2 linked regions of the Homo sapiens genome follow. The protein of the gene in region 2 purifies or fractionates together with the protein of the main gene of each other region. This does not show direct contact. Each region holds a gene or a part of one and is shown on either strand. Other genes may lie near its edges.

Evidence for each region. The genes of interacting proteins can lie anywhere in the genome.
Region 1: the proteins of DENND5B (region 2) and RNLS purify together in Homo sapiens (pull-down; one study listed by IntAct). This does not show direct contact.

The regions. Positions count from the first base shown.
Region 1 is NC_000010.11:88,359,819-88,363,318, forward strand, and holds part of RNLS (renalase isoform 1 precursor), read right to left. Parts: intron 2,908-3,500; coding exon 2,734-2,907; intron 1-2,733. UniProt on the Homo sapiens protein: Catalyzes the oxidation of the less abundant 1,2-dihydro-beta-NAD(P) and 1,6-dihydro-beta-NAD(P) to form beta-NAD(P)(+). The enzyme hormone is secreted by the kidney, and circulates in blood and modulates cardiac function and systemic blood pressure.
Region 2 is NC_000012.12:31,581,137-31,584,636, forward strand, and holds part of DENND5B (DENN domain-containing protein 5B), read right to left. Parts: intron 1-3,500. UniProt on the Homo sapiens protein: Guanine nucleotide exchange factor (GEF) which may activate RAB39A and/or RAB39B. Promotes the exchange of GDP to GTP, converting inactive GDP-bound Rab proteins into their active GTP-bound form.

The sequences.
Region 1 (3,500 bases), on a different chromosome or scaffold from region 2:
CCACCATCCCACTCCATTTTTATAGCAGATGTATAGTCCGTTAGGAGATATGACTCTGCTATTTCTTTCCTTCCTGTGTGCCTTTCATAGTAGAAAATATCACTGGGTCCTATAAATCCAAATCAACTTTTAATCTGGCTTCACCAAAGAAACAGAAATCTATTGAATGTTGGGAAAATAGTTGTACTGAATTTACTGAAAGATGTTACATCATTCTCTAAAATGTCATGTGGTTTTAAGAAACTTTGAAGGTAATTTTGAATGTACATGACTCTTTTTATGTGACAACTTTAGAACTTTACCTCCCATATAAGATGTGACTCTACTTGAAGATAATGGACATTATTGATTGCTAATCCAGCATTTAGTACTTCCTTCCTTCTTCCTAACAAAACTCTATTTTATTCAGGTAGCACTCCTCATAACTAAAGGAAAGATGACCCTAGTACCAGTTCCAGGAGTAGAACTGGACTTGTATAGGCTTATCACATTGCTTCCACCCTCTTTGCTAGCACCTGGTTTTGGAGTACTCAAGTAATCCAATTCTGGCCTGTGGCACATGAGGAGAAGTCTATTAAAGGGCTTCTGTAAAGATTTCCTTGATTAGTATTATTATTTATTGTTATTATTTTTTGAGATGGAGTCTTGCACTGTCACCCAGGCTGGTGTGCAGTGGCACGATCTTTGCTCACTGCAACCTCTGCCTCCTGGGTTCAAGAGTGATTCTCCTGCCTCAGCCTCCCGAGTAGCTGGAATTACAGGCGCTTGTCACCATGCCCAGCTAGTTTTTTGTATTTTTAGTAGAGATAGGGTTTCATTACATTGGCCAGTCTGGTCTTGAACTCCTGACCTCTTGATCCACCCACCTTGGCCTCCCAAGATTTCCTTGATTCTTAGAAAGGAACAGAGCCAGTGATAGTTCATTTCATTCCTAAGCATGTTGTTAAGTTCAGTGTGACTCCAACAGCTATTGCCATCTTGCTGCCAGTCCTCTGAGGATGTCAGTATTGGGAGTGGAAGAGAGCAGAGAAAGATAAAACCTAGGTCTTTGAAGAGATTGCTCAGTTCCTGAATCAATGAACCCTGAAGTCTCTCCAATCTTCTCCTTAGATAATGTATTAGTCAACTCAGGCTACCATAACAAAATACCATAGACTGGGTGACTTAAACAACAGAAATTTCTCACAGTTCTGGAGGCTGAGAAGTCCAAGATCAAGGTGCTGGTAGATTTGGCTTAGCTGGGGCTATCTTCCTGGCTTGCAGACAGCTGCCTTCTTACTATGTCCTCACATGGTGTGTGCAAGCCGGGATAGAAAGAGAGAGCTTTCTCTTTTGCTCTTCTTTTAAGGTCATCAACCCCACAGGGTTAGGGCGCTACCTTTAGGACCTCATTTAATCTTAATTACCTCCTAAAAGTCCTATCTCTAAATACAACCATATTGGGATTAGGGCTTCAACCTATGTCTGTGGAGGAGACACAATTCAGTCCATAGCAGATAATATAACAAATGTCTTTATGCTATTAAACAAGTTTAAATTTTTTTTTCTGTTATAGACAACTTAATACACCCTGACAGATATCATATCTTATGATGAAATATACACAGGATAATGTCTAATTCATGGCATATAACATGAAAAGATCAAGGGTTAGTCTCCTTTTCTCAGAACAAAGCAGTTGTAGAGTTAAAAATAGTCCATTGAAGTTCTAAGGCATTTTATGAACTGCTGATTGTACATATATGTGGTATCATGTTAACATAAACAGTCCAGCCCTAAGGGAGTTTTAAGTTATAAAAGAAACATTTTTCTAAGATCATGAGCTCTGATATAAAAACCATACTCCAGCCCAGTTCTATCATTATGAAGGTCTGGCGAGCCAAGAGACATTAGTTGGTGATTTTATCAAGCCAGACTTCTAACTAATGGCTTGGTGAAGCCATTACTGTCCCATAAAACACTGTAACAGATTGACAGGACAATTCAAGAGTTTTAGTCATTTTACATCCTTAACGGTTATTCCACAAAAAGCAGCATTCTCAGGGATCACTGCAGTCCTACAAATGAGAATACACTTTCTTCACCTTTTTGCCTAAAAGGAATCAGTTATGTTTTTCTTACAATTCAAATCTAATTTTTATAACTATCTTCAACAAAAAGGGTGGAGTGTAGATTCACCACATTCTAGTGAAGCTCTCATAAAACATTTTACCCGTTACATTGTTTATAAAGTAAATTTACCATTTTTCCCCAGATAAAATGTAAATAAACAATAAAATTATATTGAAATGAAGGATTTTCATAACATAGTAAAATTCTCCTTTAATTTCTAGCCGAGGGAGTGGAAGAGCAGCACTTATCAAATTAAAAAAAAATACCCAAACCAAACAAACAAAAACAAACTTCACCAAGAAACAAATGAGAGATACATGTGCATATAGATGCATCCATATTAAAGCAATAGAACTTGGGCCATTTTGAAATCTTAAACCTTCTGACACTATTTTCATGAACTCAGTAATATAAACCATGTGGTGAATGAAATTCTGAAAAACTTTGCTGGTTTCACTGTGTATTTTATTACTGGCCAAATGTGACATTAAATTTTATCCCCTGTGGCTTGGAGTTAAATGCTTGCTCTGTTCAGAATGGCAACACTCAATTAAACAGCATTTTTCATGATCTACACCCACCATTGTTGCTGTATTTAAGGGAAATAATAGGGGTACTGACCTATATTGCGCTTCTTATTATCAATGGAGACGAAGCGTATGCAGGGATTACTGGTGATGTACTGCCCAGCCCAAGGGACATCAATCTTCGTACCAGCTTCATAAAAGAGGCCCAGAGCATATCGAGAGGAGTAGCTCACAGCCTCCAGTTGCTGCCTTTGGCATTCACTAATTACTGTGGAAGAAAAAATAAAAGGCATCAAACTTAAAAATACCATCTTTCCTTTTAGCACATCAAATATAAAATTCCTTTAAACCAGTTACAACAGCTTCCACCAACTCCATCTCACTTACAATGAATTTTGAAAGGTAATGTAAAATAGCACCAGCTCTAATTTCTTTTTGGAATAATTATTAACTTTGGCAAATTGTTTTTATCAAGCTGAAGGTCCACATTCTTTGGAATGGCGTTCAAGGTTCTCAAAATCTGGCTCCAAATTGCTTTTCTAGTCTGGTATCCCAGTCCTTGGACTGTCTGGCCACATTATAGATTCCATACACTGACCCCTTACTACAAGTTAGGGTATTTGCTATATACTTGACATAAGCATTTCACTCTATCATAACAACAGTTTTGAAAGGTAGAGTATTATTTCCAAGTTACAGATGAGGAGGCTGATGCTCCATCTGTTATGACCTCTTAAATTATTCCATGGATACAAGGGGGGAATAACACACACTGGGGTCTGTTGGGGATGGGGGCATTGGGGAGGGACAGCATCAGGATGAAGAGCTAATGGATGCTGGGCTTAATACCTAGGGGATGGG
Region 2 (3,500 bases):
ATTTATTTGTTATAAACAAATACCTAAAAGTTTGAATCTTATTCTAAATACAAAGGAAGTTATTAGAGAATTTTAAGTAGAAAAAAATTATTCTAAGATCTCAATGACTATATTTGGGAACTGGCAGTATCATCCATACTACAGTAATAATCTAGAGATTAGTACAGTAATTTCAAACAGGAACCCCTGGGTCCTTAAAAGTCCATGTAGATAATAATTGGGAGTCCATTAATTGACATTAAGATTTCAAAATGCTTCTTAAAAATTGTAGCTTTCGGCCAGGCACAGTGGCCTGTAATCCTAGCACTTTGGGAGGCCGAGGCGGGCAGATCACCTGAGGTCGGGAGCCCGAGACCAGCCTGACCAACATGGTGAAACTCCGTCTCTACTAAAAATACAAAAAAAAATTAGAGGGACATGGTGGCACATGCCTGTAATCCCAGCTATTCGGGAAGCTGAGGCAGGTGAATCGCTTGAACCTGGGAGGCGCTGGCTGCGGTGAGCCGAGATCACACCATTGCCCTCCAGCCTGGGCAACAACAGGGAAACTCTGTCTCAAAAAAAAAAAAAAAAAAAGTAGCTTTTCTGGAAAGGGAACTGTATAAACTAATTGATTTTCTCCCTTTCCTGGTGGCTGATTTTCTAATTACTTAATCGCTCCTCATGTGGTATAGTTATCCCTCAGTATCTGTGTGGGATTGGTTCCAAGACTCCCAGGATGCTCAAGCCCCTTACATAAAATCGTGTAGTACGTACAGATAACATACGCACATTCTCCCGTACACTTTAAGTCACCTCCTGGTTAGTTATAATACTCAGTACGATGCAAATTCCATGTAAATGGTTGTTATGCTGTATTGTTTAGGGAACAATAGCGAGAACAAAAAACACGTACATGCAACCACAATTTTTGGTTTTTATTTTTTTTGGAACACTGTATTTTCAATTTGATGATGGTTTAATCCACAGATGTGGAACCCACACACATGGAGGGCTGACTATACATGTGGTGTGTACTCGTCCTCTTGTTCTATGACATTTAGGATTAATTTTTTTTTAACAGATAAACTTAGTTTTTTTACTCAAAAACAATTTCAGGCCCCAAGGGTGGTAGTTAGAAATCATTCATCTCATTTAACCCTTTTCAAGACAGACGAGAACACTGATGCCTGCGGCTGTCATAAGTGACAGGCCAGGAATGGAATCTCAGCTTCTGACTGTGCATTCAGCTCTAACTGCTGTACTCACTGCCCTGCCAGCTATGGTTTCACAAGCATTCATACATTCCTTTAAAAAACTATAAACTCACCTAATGACAAATTATTTATGCTAAGAAATGATAAAACCCAGTAAGAAGAGCAAAGAGGTTTTTTAAAAAGTTAAAAGTGGTATATTTCATAGTAAAAGCCTTTATACAGTAACACCTTATCTTTAAAAATATTCATTGACAAAAGCAAAAATATCATTAAATATATAATCTTCTAAATCTAAATCTGTGATGAATGAATGAGGAAATGCATGCAAGAGAAATTACTAGTGCTGACCAAAGAAGAAACAAGCTAGGTCAGGTCATAAAGGCCTGCCCGATAGTGTCGCCTTTAATATCTTTCCCATATAGAGGAATAAGAAGATAATTTCACTTGACGATAAGGTTACCCATTTGGGATCTATATTCTGGTAGATTTTACAATCTGTATGATACAGCATATGTTACTAGGGAGACAGCAAATATAGTGGTTATGGGTATGGATGTTATGGGTATGGATGAATTATGTCAGACAGATCTTCAATCCAGGCTTCTTACTTATTATAGGAACTGAAGTAAAGTATTCATTCTCTAGACTCAGTTTCCTCCTGTGTACAAAAGAGAAAACAGGCCAGGCGTGGTGGCTCACGCCTGTAATCCCAGCACTTTGGGAGGCCAAGGTGGGTGGATCACAAGGTCAGGAGTTTTAGATAAGCGTGATCAACATGGTGAAACCCCATCTCTACTAAAAATACAAAAAGTAGCCAGGTGTGGTGGCGTGTGCCTGTAATCCCAGCTACTCAGGAGGCTGAGGCAGGAGAATCACTTGAACCCGGGAGGCGGAGATTGCAGTGAGGAGAGATAGCGCCACTGCGCTCCAGCCTGGGCGACAGAGTGAGACTCAGTCTTTTAAAAAAAAAAAAAAAAGAGAGAGAGAGAGAAAAGAATGCCTATTTCCTAAGGTTGTTGTCCAGACTGAATGAGGTACTGACTATAAAGAATTTAGCACAGTGGTTGGGTGGGGTGGCTCACAACTGTAATCCTAGCACTTTGGGAGGCCGAGGCAGGAGGATCACCTGAGGTCAGGAGTTCAAGACCAGCCTGGCCAACATGATGAAACTCCGTCTCTACCAAAAAATACAAAAATTAGCCAGGCATGGTGGCACGCACCTGTAGTCCCAGCTACTTGGGAGGCTGAGGCACGAGAATCACTTAAACCTGGGAGGCAGAGGTTGCAGTGAGCCGAGATCACGCTACTGCACTCCAGCCCGGGCAACAGAGCAAGACTGTGTCTGGGAAAAAACAAAAACAAAAACAAAAACAAACAACAACAACAACAAGAATTTAGCACAGTGTCTGGCATGTGGAAAGCACTCTATAAATGTTAGCTATTTTACTATTTCATCACAGATTCTTATAGGACAGTGGCCACCACTTACGTATGTACTCCAGAATCTGACACACTGTAAGCATTTAACATTAAATAATCCAAAATATAATAGCTAGTTATGGTTTTACCAAAAACAAAATTTAGGTCATTATTAAACAAAAATGCTAAGGATCAGGCATATGGCACGTTTCCTAAAGCATCCTGTATAGAACCATCTCTACCATTCAGTAAATTATAGAAGAGGAAATTGTTTTCTTCCGTATGAAGCTTTATGGAAATCATGACTAACAATGCATTGTATTCTAGATATTTACTTTTATTACTCTGAGAGTATCTGTGACCAACAGTGGAAATACAAGCAAAAGGATGTGCACAGGAATTTTAGGACAGTCTGTCTTAACACCTTAGCAGCAAACAGAACTTGTACTCCTCCAGCCTCCTTTCTCTCTCCCTGTCCCCTTTTCTTTCCCTTTCTCTCCTCCCTCAAAGACACTATGTCTCACCCTCTTCCCCTCCCTTGTCTTCCCAGTTGTCTATGCTGGTGTGTCCTGTATTAACAAAATGGGCCATAAGCCTGAGCCTTGGGGTTATCACAGAGAATTTAGCTTCACTCACTCTTGGGCCAATTTCACTATAAAGAGTTTTATTTCCAGTAGATTTCCAAAATTAAATGATCATTATACCACAGTGTCTTAGTCTGTTTTCGTGTTGCTATAAAGAAAATACCTGAGGCTGGGTAGTCTATAAAGAAATGGCGCAGCCAGGCATGGTGGCTCACTGCCTGTAATCCCAGCACTTTGGGAGGCCAAGGATGGGTGGACTGCTTGAGCTCAGGAGTTTGAGATCAGCTTAGGCAACATCTTT